2 linked regions of the Homo sapiens genome follow. The protein of the gene in region 2 purifies or fractionates together with the protein of the main gene of each other region. This does not show direct contact. Each region holds a gene or a part of one and is shown on either strand. Other genes may lie near its edges.

Region 1 (7,582 bases), about 23 Mb from region 2:
TTTTTAAGCTTGATGTGATACCGTTTATGCATTTTTGCTTTAGTTGCCTGTGCTTTTGATGTCTTACTTATCTTTGCCCAAATCAATGTACTGGAGTGTTTCCCCAGTGTTTACTTCCAGCAGTTTAATAGCTACAGATCTAACATTTAAGTCTTTAATCCATTTTGATTTGATTTTTGAAAATGGTGAGAGATAAGCACTTAGTTTCATTCCCTTAAATATGGATATCTAGTTGTCCCAGGATCATTTACTGAAGGGGCTGTTCTTTCCCTAACATATGTTCTTGTCATCTTTATAAAAAATAAGTTGACTGTAACTGTGTGGATTTATTTCTGGATTCTCTATTCTGTTCCATTGGTCTCTGTCTGTTTTTAAGCCAGTACCATGTTGTTTTGGTTATGTAACTTTGCAGTATAATGCCTCCAGCTTTGTTCACTTTGCTCTGGATTGCCGTAGCTATTCAGGATCGTGTGCGGTTCAAGATAAATTTTAGGATTTTTTTTTTTTTTCTATTTCTGTCAAGAATGTCATCGGTATTTTGAGAGGAGTTGCACTGTATCTGCAGATTGCTTGGGGGTGGTATAGACATTTTAACAATATTGATTCTTCCAATACATGAACATGGACAATCTTTCCATTTCTTTGTGTCTTCTTCAATTTCTTGCATCATTGTTTTATAATAAGTTTTCATTGTAGAGATCTTTCACTGCTTTGGTTAACTTGATTAATTTCTAGGTATTTTATTTATTTGTAGCTATTCTGCAGGGGATTAATTTCTTGGTTTCTTTTTCAGATTGTTTGCTGTCAGTATATAGAAATGTGACTGATTGTATGTTGATTTTGTATCCTACAACTTCACTGAATTTATCAATTCTAATAGTTTTTTTCTAAATATAAGATTATATTGTCTACTAACAAGAGTAGTTTGACTCCTTCCTTTCCCTTTTGGATGCCTTTTATTTATTTCTGTTGTCTAATTGCTCTGGCAAGGATTTCCAGTACTATATTAACAGTGGTGAAAGTGGGCATCCTTGTCTTGTTTCCAGAATTTAAAGGAAAGTATTTCATTTTTCCCCCATTCAGTATGATACTAGCTGTGGGTTTGTTGTTGTTTATTATGTTGAGGTATGTTCCTTCTATACCCAGTTTGTTGAGAGCTGTTATCACAAAGAGATGCTGAATTTTATCAAACACTTTTTCAGTTAGTATTGAAATGATCATATGGTTTTTGTTCTTCATTTTGTTGATGTGTCACAGTTATTGACTGCATATATTTAAACATCCTTGCATACCTGGGATGAATCCCACTTGATCATGATGAATTATCTTTTTAATGTGCCTTTGAATTCAATTCACTAGTATTGTGTTGAAGATTTTTATATCTACTTCATCAGATATATCGGCCTGTAGTTCTCATTTTTTGTAGTGTCTTTCTTTGGTTTTGGTATCAGGGTAATACTGGCAAGTTTGGAAGTATTTTCTCCTCCTCAAGTTTTTGGAACAGTCTGAGTAGAACTCTTATTAGCTCTTCTTTCAGCGTTTGGCAGAATTCAGTAGCGAAAACACCAGGTCCTGGTCTACTTTGATAAGAGGCTTTTTACTACCGCTTCCATCTTGTTAATGTTGTTCTATTCAAGTTTTGGATTTCTTCATGGTTCAATCTTGGTATGTTTTTATGTGTCTCGGAATTCATCCATTTCTTCTAAGTTTTCCAATTTACTGCATATAGTTGCTCATAATAGTCTCTAAAATATTTTGAATTTCTGTGTTATCAGATGTAATGACTCCTTTTTCATCTCTGATTTTATTCATATGGATATTCTCTCTTTTACAGTCCGGCTAAAGGTTTGTTGATTTTGCTTATCTTTTAAAAAAAAAAAACAACTTTTTCTTTCATCCATCTTTTGTACTATTTTTAGTATCAATTCATTAATTTCTGCCCCAATCTTTATCATTTCTTTTCTTCTAATAATTTTGGGTTTGGTTTCCTCTTGCTTTTCTAGTTATTATTTATTTTAAAAATTTGTATAAACGTAAGGGGTGCGAGTGCAGTTTTGTTACATGGATTTATTGCAGAGTGGTAAAGTCTGGGCTTTTCTTATATTCATCACCTGAATTATGTACACTGCATACATTGCAGCCATTAAGTAATTTCTCACCATCTACTCCCTGCCCATCCCCCACCCTTCCAAGTCTCTATTATTTCACACTCTATATCCCTATGTACACATTATTTAGCTCCCACTTATAAATGAGAACATGTGGTATCTGTTCTGAGTTGTTTGCTTAAGATAATGGCCTCAGTTCCATCCATGTTGCTGCAAAAGACATGGTTTCATTCTTTTTTAAAATGTCTGAACAATATTCCATTGTGTATATATACACCACATTTTCTTTATCCAATCATCTGTTGATGGACCCTTAGGTTGATTCTACATCTTGGCTATTGTGACTAGTGCTGCAATATACATACAAATCAGGTATCTTTTTTATACAATTTCTTTTCCTTTAGATAGATACCCAGTAGTGTGACTGCTGGAACTAATTCTTCAAGACACACTGTTAGGTTGTTTATTTGAAGTGTCTGTACTTTTTGGATGCAGGGATTTATTGCTATAATCTTCCCTCCTAGTACTACTTTTGCCGTATCCTACAGGTTTTGGTATGTTGTGTTTCCATTTTCATTTGCTTCAGGAAAATTTAAAATTTTCTCTTAATTTCTTCATTGACCCAAGGGCCATTCAGAAACATAATGTTTAATTTCCATTTATTTGTATAGTTTCCAAAGTTCCTCTTGTTATTGATTTCTGGTTTTATTTCATTATGGTCAGAAAATATACTTGATTGAATTTTAATCTTTTGAATTTTGTGAGACTTGTTTTGTGGCTTAACATTTGGTTTATCCTTGAGAATGTTCCATTTGTTGAGGAAAAGAATGTATATTCTACAGCTGTTGGATGAAATGTTCTACAGATGTCTATTAGGTGAAAGTTATTTTTAATAAACAATGGATTAATAAACATATAGGTTTACTTGTAATATTATATATATATATATATATATATATATATATATATATATATATATATATATATATATATATATATATGTTTCAGAGACAAGGTCTTGCTCTGTTGCCCAGGCTGGAGTGCAATGGCATAATCGTGGCTCACTGAAGTCCTGACCTCCTGGGCTTCCGTCCTCCTGCCTCAGCCTTGTGAGCAGCTGGGACTACAGGCTCACAACACACATGGCTAATTTTATTTTTATATTCTTTTGTAGAGATGAGGTCTTGCTATGTTGCCCAGGCTGGTCTTAAACTCCCAGCCTCAAGCTGTCCTCCCGCCTTGGCCTCCCAAAGTGCTGAGTTACAGGCATGACCCATTACAACTGGCCAATTTTTTTTGTTTTAATTTCAAACACAGTAAATATGGATATAAGTAAACAAAATCTCTTTGGGGTCCTCCAAAAAAAGTGTGAAGTTTCTGAGACCAAAAAGTTTGAAAATTGCTACTGTAGGCCAAGATCCCTGGCTCTATTAGTTTGAGGAATCTTGCCAGGATACCTGCTGCCCAGTTCCTCCCTGTCAGCTTCTCTTAGGGCTTTGGTTATGTATAAATATTAGAGCTAGGGTAAGAAGCATAAATCTATGCTGCTCATAAAGTTAAGAAAAATAGGCCCCATTTTATTTTTTCTAGCTAAACATTTTCAACCAATTTATTTAAGCTTAATGTTAAATAATTTATATAAATAGAACAGTAGTATACTATACCTGTGGCATCCTAAGAAAGGAGAAATCAGGTTGTGGCATTCCAACAAGGGAACAAATTCGAGAAAGTTCAGTTACTGGTGTGGATACAGGAGGGATCTGGCTGGGGGCAGGCCAACACATATTGTCCATAGACTGAACATTATGGTACTCATTAGCACTGTGAGGCTTGTTCATATAAGATGCTACCAAAAAAGAGAAAAGAGTCTATCTTTATTAATAAAATACTATCTCAAATTATGCACTTATTGTAGGGTTTTATAGAAGAGCAAGCAGGAAACTGCTAAAAAGTGAAGTGAATTGCTCAAGGCCACCCATTATTAAATAACAGAATCAGGATTTCAGGTGGCTCTAGTTCCAAATCCTGGACTCTAGCAGTACAACCTGCCATCCAAGTGACTGTCAGCTTACCTTCAGTGGTCCTCTGGCCACGCACCTTATAAATTTGGTCGAAAACCTTGAAAAATTCAGTTAGACGCTATAGAGCCACCAACTGCATTAAAAAGATGAGTCTTCCATGAAGCACATATAAACAACTATTTAGTACTTCCTAAAATTATTGTGACTTCAGTAAAGGTTTTTGGATGAGTATAATTGATTAATGATAAATTATTAAGATAAAGATTTTAAAATATAAGTACCTAACTGCCAAAAATTAAAACCTTGAGCAGCTAATGACTACATGGTACTGCTACAGGTAAAATTTGAACAAACAAATGGCTTTCTTGTTTTGCAGAAGTAAGAAGAGAAAAATAAAAGAATGAATAAACAAATGGCTTTCTTGAGCTGAAATATAATTCATCCTTAAGTTTTGAAGTTTTGGCTTCCACCTCAATTCTTGCAATTCCACCTTACATTCTGAGACACATGGATGAATATTTTTGTGGCTCTGAAATAATATTTCTTAAAAGTTTTTTTTGAAATTGTCTTCTAAGTGTTTTTATATGGAAGATGATTTTAAAATTCTGAGTGTTCACATTCTTTATGATTAACAAACTCACTAATAGAACAAAAGCATACCTCATTGAAGAATTAATCCAAACTTCTTACTAATATAGATTAAAAAAGCAGTTAAGTGGCTTGCTCAAAGTCACAGAGCCAGTTAGTTCTATAACAGGGGCTGGATTCTGAGCTAGTGACCCTAAGACTCTAAAGCCTATGAGTTTTTTTTTTTTTTTTTCCTATACTGAAATAAAGTAAAACTTACTTGTTTTTGACAATGGGACCATCTTTATCTAATTTTGTCTTAAAATTAATTTGGTTCTATTTCAGGACCATGTCTGTCACTATAATAAATAATCAGGTTCCTAATATTTTTTGGAATTTTTAATTAATTATCACTGGAATATAAATGGGGTTAGGTTCTGCTTTTATTCCAGGTTTTGTTTTTGTTTTGACAGAGTTTCGCTCTTGTTGCCCAGGCTCGAGTGTGATGGCGTGATCTTGGCTCACTGCAACCTCCACCTCCCGGGTTCAAGCGATTCTCCTGATTCAGCCTCTGAAGTAGCTGGGATTACAGCTACTTGGTGGCGCCTGCCACCACACCCGGCTAATTTTTTGTATTTTTAGTAGAAAGGGGGTTTCACCATGTTGGCCAGGCTGGTCTCAAACTCCTGACCTCAGGTGATCCACCCGCCTTGGCCTCCCAAAGTGCTGGCATTACAGATGTGGGCCAACGTGCCCAGCCAATTCCAGGTTTTGATCTTTAATACGCTTAGATCTGCTTATTCCAAAATGTTTTTGACTTCTCTGAGAAACTTCTGCCCACATCCACTTTTGTATCAGTCATTCTTCCTGGCTGCCTTTAGTAGATCATTATACAGATAAAATGCTAAAGTATAGAGGACATTCAGGGTAGGAACAAATATGGCGGATATTTACTGAAATCCAGTTATGTGCCAGATGTTATGCTATAGGCTTTACAGACTTAAGAGTATGACTCACTTTCCTATATCTAACTCTATTAATGATTTTTAATTGATTTTGTAGATTTTTCTATTTTTACAACAGTTAGGTTATTTTAACATAATATTAATATCAATTATTAGCACCTACAATGTGTTGGACATAGTGCTGTTTTATATTTATACATGTTATATAATTACCACAAGTAATCTGTAATGTATTATTCTTATTTTATAAATAAGAAACAAGATTTCAGAAAAGTTAAATAATGTATTTAAGTTACATGATAATTTTTAAATTACTGAGGACAAAAGCTAGAATGTGCAAACTTTTAAAGGTTTGGATGTCTACAGAATGATTATCTATAACACTACAATTAAGTAATCACAAGAAGACATTTAGTGACTGTAGATCTATTGGTTACATGGTTGTATTATTATTGTTCTTTTTGTTTTTTGAGACAGGGTCTATCTCTGTTGCCCAGGTTAGAGTGCAGTGGCGTGATCTTGGCTCACTGCAACCTCTGCCTCCAAGGCTCAAGCAATCCTACCACGTCAGCCTCCCCAGTAGCTGGGACTACAGGCACACGCCACCACACCTAGCTAACTTTTGTATTTTTTAGAGAGACAGAGTTTCCGCCATGTTGCCCAGGCTGGTCTTGAACTCCTGAGCTTAAGAGATCCGCCTGCCTCAGCTTCCCAAAGTTCTGAGATTACAGGCATGAGCCACACCTGGCCAGTTATATTATTATATAACTGAAACAAATATAAAAATTATAGTTTTAAGAATAAAAGTAGTTTTGGGCCAGGTGTGGTGGCATATACCTGTAATCCCAGCACTTTGGGAGGCTGAAGTGAGAGGATTGCTTGAGGTCAGAAGTTTGAGACCAGCCTGGCCAACACAGCAAGACACCATCTCTAAAATAAATAAATACATTAAAATAAAAGCAGTTTTATCTTTAAAAGTACATGATTAAAAAGAACCAAATGAATTGAATTTTTAAAATGATATTATTGGTAATAGTATTTAGTTTACTTACCTAATTTCTTATTTTGTTTAGGCTGAGAGGGTAATCCATATTCATCTCTTCTGTTAGAGGAAACAGGGATTTCATTAGCAATCTGTTTGATTTCATTCTTATGGTCCACAGTGTTAGAGCCATCAATTTTTAGAATTTCTTTAAGCATCCGTGTTCCCTTCTTTTTGAAAATGATTCACATGGAGATGGTGAGGGTGAAGAGAACAAAGTCAACATTACATCTGTAGAACTTATTGATCTTTCTTGGAAAGAATTCCATTGTTAACAATTAAGACATTAACTACATTCAGATAGAAACTGAAAAAAAAAAACCCAACACCCACATTTCTGATACAGAAACGATACTTATCCTCCTGCTTAACTTTCATCCCAGTTACCTAGTAGCAATGTTTGAAAAGCAGGGGAACTGTGGTCTAAAGAGAAAAAGTATGGCTAAATTGCCCAGGGCAGCCTGGTTTCCTCACAAGATGACAATAATGATGTAACATACCAGCCTCCATGATGGAAGTGTTTGAACACTTGCATGGGATATGTCTGCATGGTCAACAGTCGAGAAATTACCACAGTAAGAAAGTTCCTACAAAATACGAACCATGGCAAATGACTGTGGTGACAAATGCTCTTCACTTGGAGGCTCCCCATGATGAGATGACTGTACTTCATTTTCTTTGGAGATATTCAAAGATGCTAAAAAGTTCTCAATTCCAGAGTTAGGCTAAAAGAATAAATATTTTGGGCATGAAGATGAACGTATAATACAAGAACACACAAAAAGCTGAGTTTTATGTACAAAAATGGTCATTCGATTTTCACTCAATCATCTTCCCAGGTGTTAAAGTTTGGGAAGAGAATTGGAATAAATAGTTTTT
Region 2 (7,582 bases):
TCTCTCTTTCTCTGACACACATACACACACATAAAGAAGCAAAGTCACCAGCTGAGAGCGAAGTTTGGGGTGGAAGTTTTGAGGTTTGAGAAAAAAGAAGTCTGAAAGTCTAACCTCTTTTTGAAATGTGCCTGTGATGAAGAGTGACAATCGGCAAAGCAAATCTAATAGGATCTCTAAAGAGCCTTTTCCTGTTGTTTACAATTGTGGCTAAAGCCCTGCACTAGAAAACAACAAATGCTAAGATCCTCCCTGCATCCCCTACCCCCGACCCCCTGGGGCACACACAACCCTCCTCCACCACGTTCTAAAAAGACTGGAAGGACTTGGAAAAACATTCCTATGGGATGAACTAGAAGGTGGCAGGACTGCTATCATCAGACCTCATTTACCCACCGCTTCCAGCTGAAAACCAGGGATTTCACAAAGGAAAAATCATGAGAGTCATAGTTCTGTGGTTTTCTCAAAAGGAGAAGGAAGGGACGCTCTTCCTTCCCACCCCTGAGAACAGGCCAAATGAGAGCAAGCCCACTGGCTGGACTGAGGGTGACCAAATGAATGTGACGATGGCATCTCATTTCCCAGGTGGACATGTGCTGGGCAGCATGTGCCTAGGACTGACCCAGAAGACACACAGCACCACACAACAGGATTGATGTGATGACAAGGCCAAGACAGAAGGCTGTGGGAGGAGTGAGGAGAAGGTGGCCAAGTGCCTGAACAATCAAAGCAGGTTTCACTCAGGAAGCTCTATCTATCTGAGTTGGGTCTTGAAGGACAAGTAAGAATTTATTATCAGGTAGACAAGGATTGGGAAGAGCATCAAGAAATGAAGAAAGGTGATGTATTCATTGGAACATGATTAGTTTAGCATGGTCAATTTGTTATTCGTAAACATAACTCTGGAGGGTAATGAGGGAAGCACGAGCTAGGAGGCTAGTTCATAACACTCAATAGATACTGATTAATGCCTATTGGCTGCCCAAGCACTGTGCTAGGTTCTGTTTAGAAATAATGCAAACAAGCAAACAGACAATAACAAAATTGGTAATGTGTTAACTGCCATGATGAGGAGAGTACTGAGAGCAGCTCAGAGCAGCATCTCCCAGACTTGAGTAGCTTGGATTGCAGAAATCCAGCTGAAAAATCCTCAGTGCAAGAAGGCAATAGAGGTGATAGATTCAGAGTATATTTAGGAGGTAGACCAGCCTAGCAGATATTGTTAGGACCCCACATATGTCCCTCACTGTTCCCATGCCCTTTACAGCTTGCCCCTGCAAGTATCTCTGAGTCTTTACCTGAAGACACTAAGGTTTGGTTTGTACAAAGGGTAAGCCAAGAATTACCAGGGAGTTAGCATCCCTGGCAGTGGTCCTCAACCAGTGTCAGATGGAAGTCAGTGGATAAATACCCCAGGTTTGCTTGCCCTTCAAATGGGACAGTTCTGAGGAATGCTTTAGGCAGAGGACTCAGATGGCAGAGTGCCAACCGCCCACAGTGGAAACCTGCTCATTAACATACCCCATACTAGCTCTCTTCCCTTCCTGGTTTCATTTCCCCATTCTCATATCGGTATTTCCTGGAATCATCTCCCATATAAACTGCTTGCATTCAGATCTTTGTCTCAAAGTCCACTTTGTGGGAACCCAACTTGAGACAAACAGAAAAAACTTTTAGAACAAGTAGATGATGAAAATGAAGACTCAAATATGAGGTCATGAGATTTTTTGCTTGCGAGACGCTGACCCTATCAATTGAGCTAAAGGACTCTTCAGTGTAAGAAAAGGGATAGATTCTGGAAGAACAGGATGAGCCTGAAAAAACTGAGCTTAAGGTGCCCAAGGGACTTGTTATCTCAAAATTCCCTGAGTACAAGGTTAAGACTCTTGACTTTGGAAAAACTGAAAAGAAATAGCAGAAAAGGAAATACACAAAAGAAGAATCCATCAGAAGTGAACATCACGTCTCCCTAAAGGGAAATTACAGTGTCTTCTTTTGACCCGAGAGAATATAAAGCCCTAGCTGTCTCTTCCAGCCGGTTTCTGTATTCTAGTTTCTCATAGTTGGAGGGACTCACTCCTTTAAAACCATACATAACTCCCCACCAGCAGCCAGCAATGGCAGCTGTAGAATCACTGTCTCCACCATGGAAAAAGGCTCGGTGGGCAAGCTCCTTCCAGGAGTCTCCTGCAGCAAGAACAGCATCGTAGGCAATCATGGGGGCATCGTGCCCACTGCTGCCACCCCAGCCAGAGTAGCTCAGGGAGGTGTAGAACTGATCCCTCTCCTTCACACCGAAAGACTCAGGGAAGGTAGGGGCTGATTCTCCATCCAAAATCCCTCTAAGTTTTAGGTAATTTTCCCATTTGGTTTGGAAGTAGGACCTGTAGAAAGGAAAAAATCTAGAGTCAATTGAAAAAAATAAAGTGAAAAGTCATAACAAAAAGCACCAGATGGATGTGTGAACAGAGAAAAATCCAACATAACTTCGGCTTCTTGCAGTAATATCATAAACTATTTAAACATCAAAATTATTTCTATATAAGTACCATTCATTCAATACATTTTTCATAAGGATCTACATAAATAAGGCATTGATCCTGTTGCTAAATAAAGAGATACATATCAAGTTAAAGGGTAAGAAATACAGGTTTGTTTTCCCTGGGAGGGTCGAGAGTAATGACCTTTTAAAGGGGAACTTCAAGACATCACAACTGTGGGTGACTTCAGCAGAAAGCCTCTTTTTATTCTAAGAAAGACAATGTGAAGTGAACTCACGAGAAGGGGAAGATGTGGCCTTACCACTTATTAGTTAGCTAGTGGAAAAACGTATCTCTGGAATTTTAACCAAGGATTTCAAAATATTATTTGTATACCAAGACAACACTGAAAAAGCAAATTCCAGGAAAGTAGGAAATAGGCATGAAAATTCATGGCAGAATAGGATAGCCACAAAAATGACAGGATTCCGTGTAAGAGGGAAACACCACAGCTGCCCTATTCATTGAGGTATCCACTTGGCTACTTTGTAGAATCATTACTGGAAGGGAACTTGAAATCCTTAGCAGATGGGTAGAAAGGGGGCTGGGGGTGAAAACCATGAGGGTTGCTGTGATCTCTGAATACAAGACATATATGTGCAGGTGGATGTACACGCACAGATTCAACCGTGTTTGAGCAGGGCGTGCGCTTACAGACTCACCAGTGTTGAAGATTTTCCTCTACAAAGTAGCCTGATTGGACAATGTACTTTTTAGCTTCTGGTAGCAGCTCCATCAGTCCTTTTCCCCACTGCAAGGGTGGTCTGCTATTCACAGCATAGGCTGTAAAAAGAGCAGACGCAAGGGCCCCCAGGTAGCCTGTTGGGTGGTGGTGGGTCATCCGACCACTCTCGATGCTCACTTGGATCAGTGTGTCCAGTTGGCTATGGTGTGGGAACCTGAGACCGATGCACATGGCCCGCATGGCAGCCCCACAGCCGCCCTCATGGCTGTTGAAGGGAATCCTCCAGCCATTGGGCTTGCCCGGCTTCAGCTGCATGGCGTTGTGCACCGAGGCACCACCTGGGGAAGAGTCGGATAAGGGATGGGGGTTAGCATAACCAAAGCAAAGGCCCCAGCAGGAATAAATAACTAAACTCTGTCTCCAAGTATTTTTGATGGAAAGGGAGAGCCAAAAAATATGATGATGCATGCCCCAAAACTCCAAACCCCACCCAACAATGTGCCTTTCTTTATGTATAACCCTTGGCAAGATAACGCTAATAAAGGCAGCAGACTCATATAGGGATCCTTGGAATCTTTACCAGTCATTACTGAGACATCACAAAAAAATTAAGAAGTAAGTATATTGTTCTCTTTTTTAAGTAAATAAGCCTTTTAAGCTCAGAGCTTAAGAAACTTCCTCAAAATCACATAATCAGCTAGTTAGTGGCTGGGTAAAATCCATCAGACTCCAAAGCCCAATTCCTTATGGAGTCCAATAAGAACCTTACAATTAGGCCGGGAGCAGTGGCTCATGCCTGTAATCCCAGCACTTTGGGAGGTGGAGGCAGGCAGATCACGAGGTCAGGAGATCGGGACCATCCTGGCTAACACGGTGAAACTCCGTCTCTACTAAAAATACAAAAAACTAGCCGGGCGTGGTGACACATGCCTGTAGTCCCAGCTATTTGGAAGGCTGAGGCAGGAGAATCGTTTGAACCCGGGAGGCAGAGGTTGCAGTGAGTCGAGATTGCACCACTGCACCCTGGCCTGGGTGACAGAGCGAGACTCCGTCTCAAAACAAAAAACCAAAAAACAAAAAACAAAAACCTCACAATTGGAGTTCCTGAACATCAAAAAGAAAGAAAGCGGCCAAAAATTCTACAGTGAAGCCCTGGGCTCAGATGAGGAGCAGTGGATTCAGGGAAACAATGTGTCTTTGGTGAGTCACTGAACCTCTGGGCCTTGGCTATCCCCTCGTGACAGTGACGTAAGCAGGCTTGTCCCCCGACCTGTCCTACTGGGGACCTGTGAATACGCATGCGAACCAAGCGATGGCAGCAACATACGATGGAGTGTGGCACTGCTGTTCCTTTACTGGTCAGTGTTTTCACAAAAATGTTCATGGATGGCACAGGTGGACAAAAAAAAGTTTCCACTTGCTAAACTGATGAGCTATCAGATGCCGAGAAAGGATGAACAGAGATTGGCATCTAAAGCCAATCCTTGGGGTGACAAGGGCCCCTTGGTATGGTGATGGGAAGCTTTCATCAGGAGGTGTTATGTGCTGAATTGAGTCCCCCCAATTCAAATGCTGTAGCTCTAAGTACCTCGATTTGGAGATAGGGCCTTTAAAGAGGTGGTTAAGCTAAAATGTGGCCTTTAGGGTAGGCCCTAATCTAATCTGCCTGGTGTCCTTACATGAAGAGGAATGCAAACACACAGAAACACCAGGGATACATGCACACAGAGGAAAGACCATGTGAGGACACAGCGAGGAGGCAGCCATCTGCAAGCCAAGGAGAGAGGCCTCAGAAGAAACCAGGCCTGTCAATATCTTGACTTGGATTTCCAGTTTCCAGAGCTGTGAGAGACAAATTTCCATTGTTTCAGCCACTCAGTCTATGCCATTTTGTTATGGCAGCCCTAGCAGCCTCAAATAGGAGAGGTAGGTCAGATGGGCCAGAGAAAATCACCTGGTGGCCCAAGTGGCTCTAACAAGTTGCCGAAGTGGGCAAGAACCACTTGTGAGCGAACCTGTGGCCAGAAGTCTCTACAAAAGCCTTTGCATTTTTTTTTCTTGAGATGGGGTCTCACTCTGTCGCCCAGGCTGGAGTCCAATGGCGCGATCTTGGCTCACTGCAACCTCCGCCTCTGGGGTTCAAGTGATTCTCGTGCCTCAGCCTCCTGGGTAGCTGGGATTACAGGTGTGCACCATCACACCCAGCTAATTTTTTAATTTTTAGTAGAGATGGGATTTCACCATGTTGGTCAGGCTAGTCTCAAACTCCTGACCTCAGATGATCTGCCCGCCTTGGCCTCCCAAAGTGCTTGGATTACAGGCATGAGCCACCATGCCTAGCCGCATTTTTCTTTAAAAATAAAAAATATACATTTTTCTTTTTACTTATTCATCACAGAAAACTTAGAAATACAAGTAAGTAAAAATAAAAAACTATAAATACTCCCATCACCCAAATATAATTAGTAACATCTTTGTACATGTTCTTCAAGATCTTTCTCAACACAGAAATACATATCTATTTTTTAAAAAAAAGTTTTTTTTTGGCCAGGCATGGTGGCTCATGCCTGTAATCCCAGCACTTTGGGAGGCTGAGGCAGGTGGATCAACTGAGGTCAGGAGTTCGAAACCAGCCTGGCCAACATGGTGAAACCCCATCTCTACCAAAAATACAAAAATTAGCCAGACGTGGTGGTGCGTGCCTGTAATCCCAGCTACTTGGGAGGCTGGGGCAGGAGAATCGCTTGAACCTGGGAGGCAGAGGTTGCAGTGAGCCGAGATCGTGCCACTGCACTCCAGCCTGGGCAACAGAGTGAGACTCCATCTCAAAAAAAAAAAAATTTTTTTTTAACTGGCCACTCAAAAAAATTTTTTTTAAAGACAGGCTTTTGCTATGTTGCCCAGGCTGGTCTCAAACTCCTGGACTCAAGCAATCCTCTCACCTTGGCCTTTCACAGTGTTGGGATTACAGGTGTAAGCCACAGCACTTGGCCCCACAGATCTATTTTTTAAAGGACAGTAGGTTCATAACATACATACTATTTTATAACCTATTAGTGTATAATAATACTTTTCAATATTAGTAAATATTATTTGCAAATTTTAAATTTTTATTAATATTTAAATTGACAAATCAATTATATACATTTATTTAGTATAATGTGATGATTTGATATATGTAAACAATGTGGGATGATCAGGCTAATTAGCATATCTATTGCCTCACTTTTTTTTGTGGTGAGACATTTGAAATTTACTCTATTGGTTATTTTGAAATATACGATACATTGTTATTGAGTAGAGTCACCCTGAATAATTTTAAATGGTTGCAAATGTGTCAGCTTAATTAATTATGAGAGATTTAGGTTCTTTCTATTTATTTCTTTATTTTTTAGAGTCAGGGTATTGCTTTGTCACTCAGGCTGGAATGCAGTGGCACGATCCTAGCTCACTGTAGCCTCAACCTCCCGGGCTCAAGCAATCATCCTACCTCAGCCCCCCAAGTAGCTGGGACTACAGGTATGTGCCATGACACCTGGCTAATGTTTTAAAAATTTTTTTCTGGAGTTGTAGTCCCCAGCCTTTTTGGCACCAGCGACCGGTTTTACAGAAGATAATTTTTCCATGGACGGGGTTGGTTGGGGGAGGTTTTGGGACAAAACTGTTCCACCACAGATCATCAGACATTAGATTCTCATAAGAAGCCCACAATCTAGATCCCTCGCATGTGCAGTTCCCAACAGGGTTCAGGCTCCTATGAGAATCTAATGCGCCACTGATCTGATGGAGGCAGAGCTCAGGTGATGATGCTCCTTCGCCCATCACTCACTTCCTGCTGTGTGCTCCAGTTCCTAACAAGCCACGGATCAGTACCTGTCTCTAGAAGAGGGATTGGCTACCCCATTCTAGAGACAGGGTCTCCGTATATTGCTCAGGCTTGTCTTGAACTCCTGGGTTCAAGTGATTCTCTCACCTTGGCCTCCCAAAGAGCTGGAATTACAGGTATGAGCCACCACCATGGCCGTTATTTCTATTTTTATCACATTTACAAACACTATTGTCTCTGTTATTTAAATCTCCATCAACATTCTTAATGATTTCCTCAAGGCTGTTTTATTCTTTGCCCTCCTTGCACCTCCCACCGGCTGTGCTCACCTGGTGCCCGCCCATCCATGTCTTCCATGCAGTCTTGGTAATGCTTAGCAAGGAGGTAATACAGTTGAGTCAACTTAGGGGCTTTCCCAGCTTCCACAAGAGCTTCTGCTGTGGCCAAGTGCATCACTGTGTCGTCACTAACTCTCCACCTTCCCACGTCTAGGGCATCCAAGCCGCCCAGCTGGGCCAACTGCCGGTGTAT

What was found. Proteins that work in one complex are often made in the same cells at the same time.
Region 1: the proteins of ADPRH (region 2) and XRN1 purify together in Homo sapiens (affinity purification with mass spectrometry; 2 studies listed by BioGRID and IntAct, with this or other methods). This does not show direct contact.

Annotation. Positions count from the first base shown.
Region 1 is NC_000003.12:142,325,662-142,333,243, forward strand, and holds part of XRN1 (5'-3' exoribonuclease 1), read right to left. Parts: intron 7,429-7,582; coding exon 7,306-7,428; intron 6,874-7,305; coding exon 6,714-6,873; intron 3,977-6,713; coding exon of another isoform or gene 3,955-3,976; coding exon 3,773-3,954; intron 1-3,772. UniProt on the Homo sapiens protein: Major 5'-3' exoribonuclease involved in mRNA decay. Required for the 5'-3'-processing of the G4 tetraplex-containing DNA and RNA substrates. The kinetic of hydrolysis is faster for G4 RNA tetraplex than for G4 DNA tetraplex and monomeric RNA tetraplex.
Region 2 is NC_000003.12:119,582,266-119,589,847, reverse strand, and holds part of ADPRH (ADP-ribosylarginine hydrolase), read right to left. Parts: coding exon 7,381-7,582; intron 3,564-7,380; coding exon 3,203-3,563; intron 2,385-3,202; coding exon 1,970-2,384; 3' UTR 1-1,969.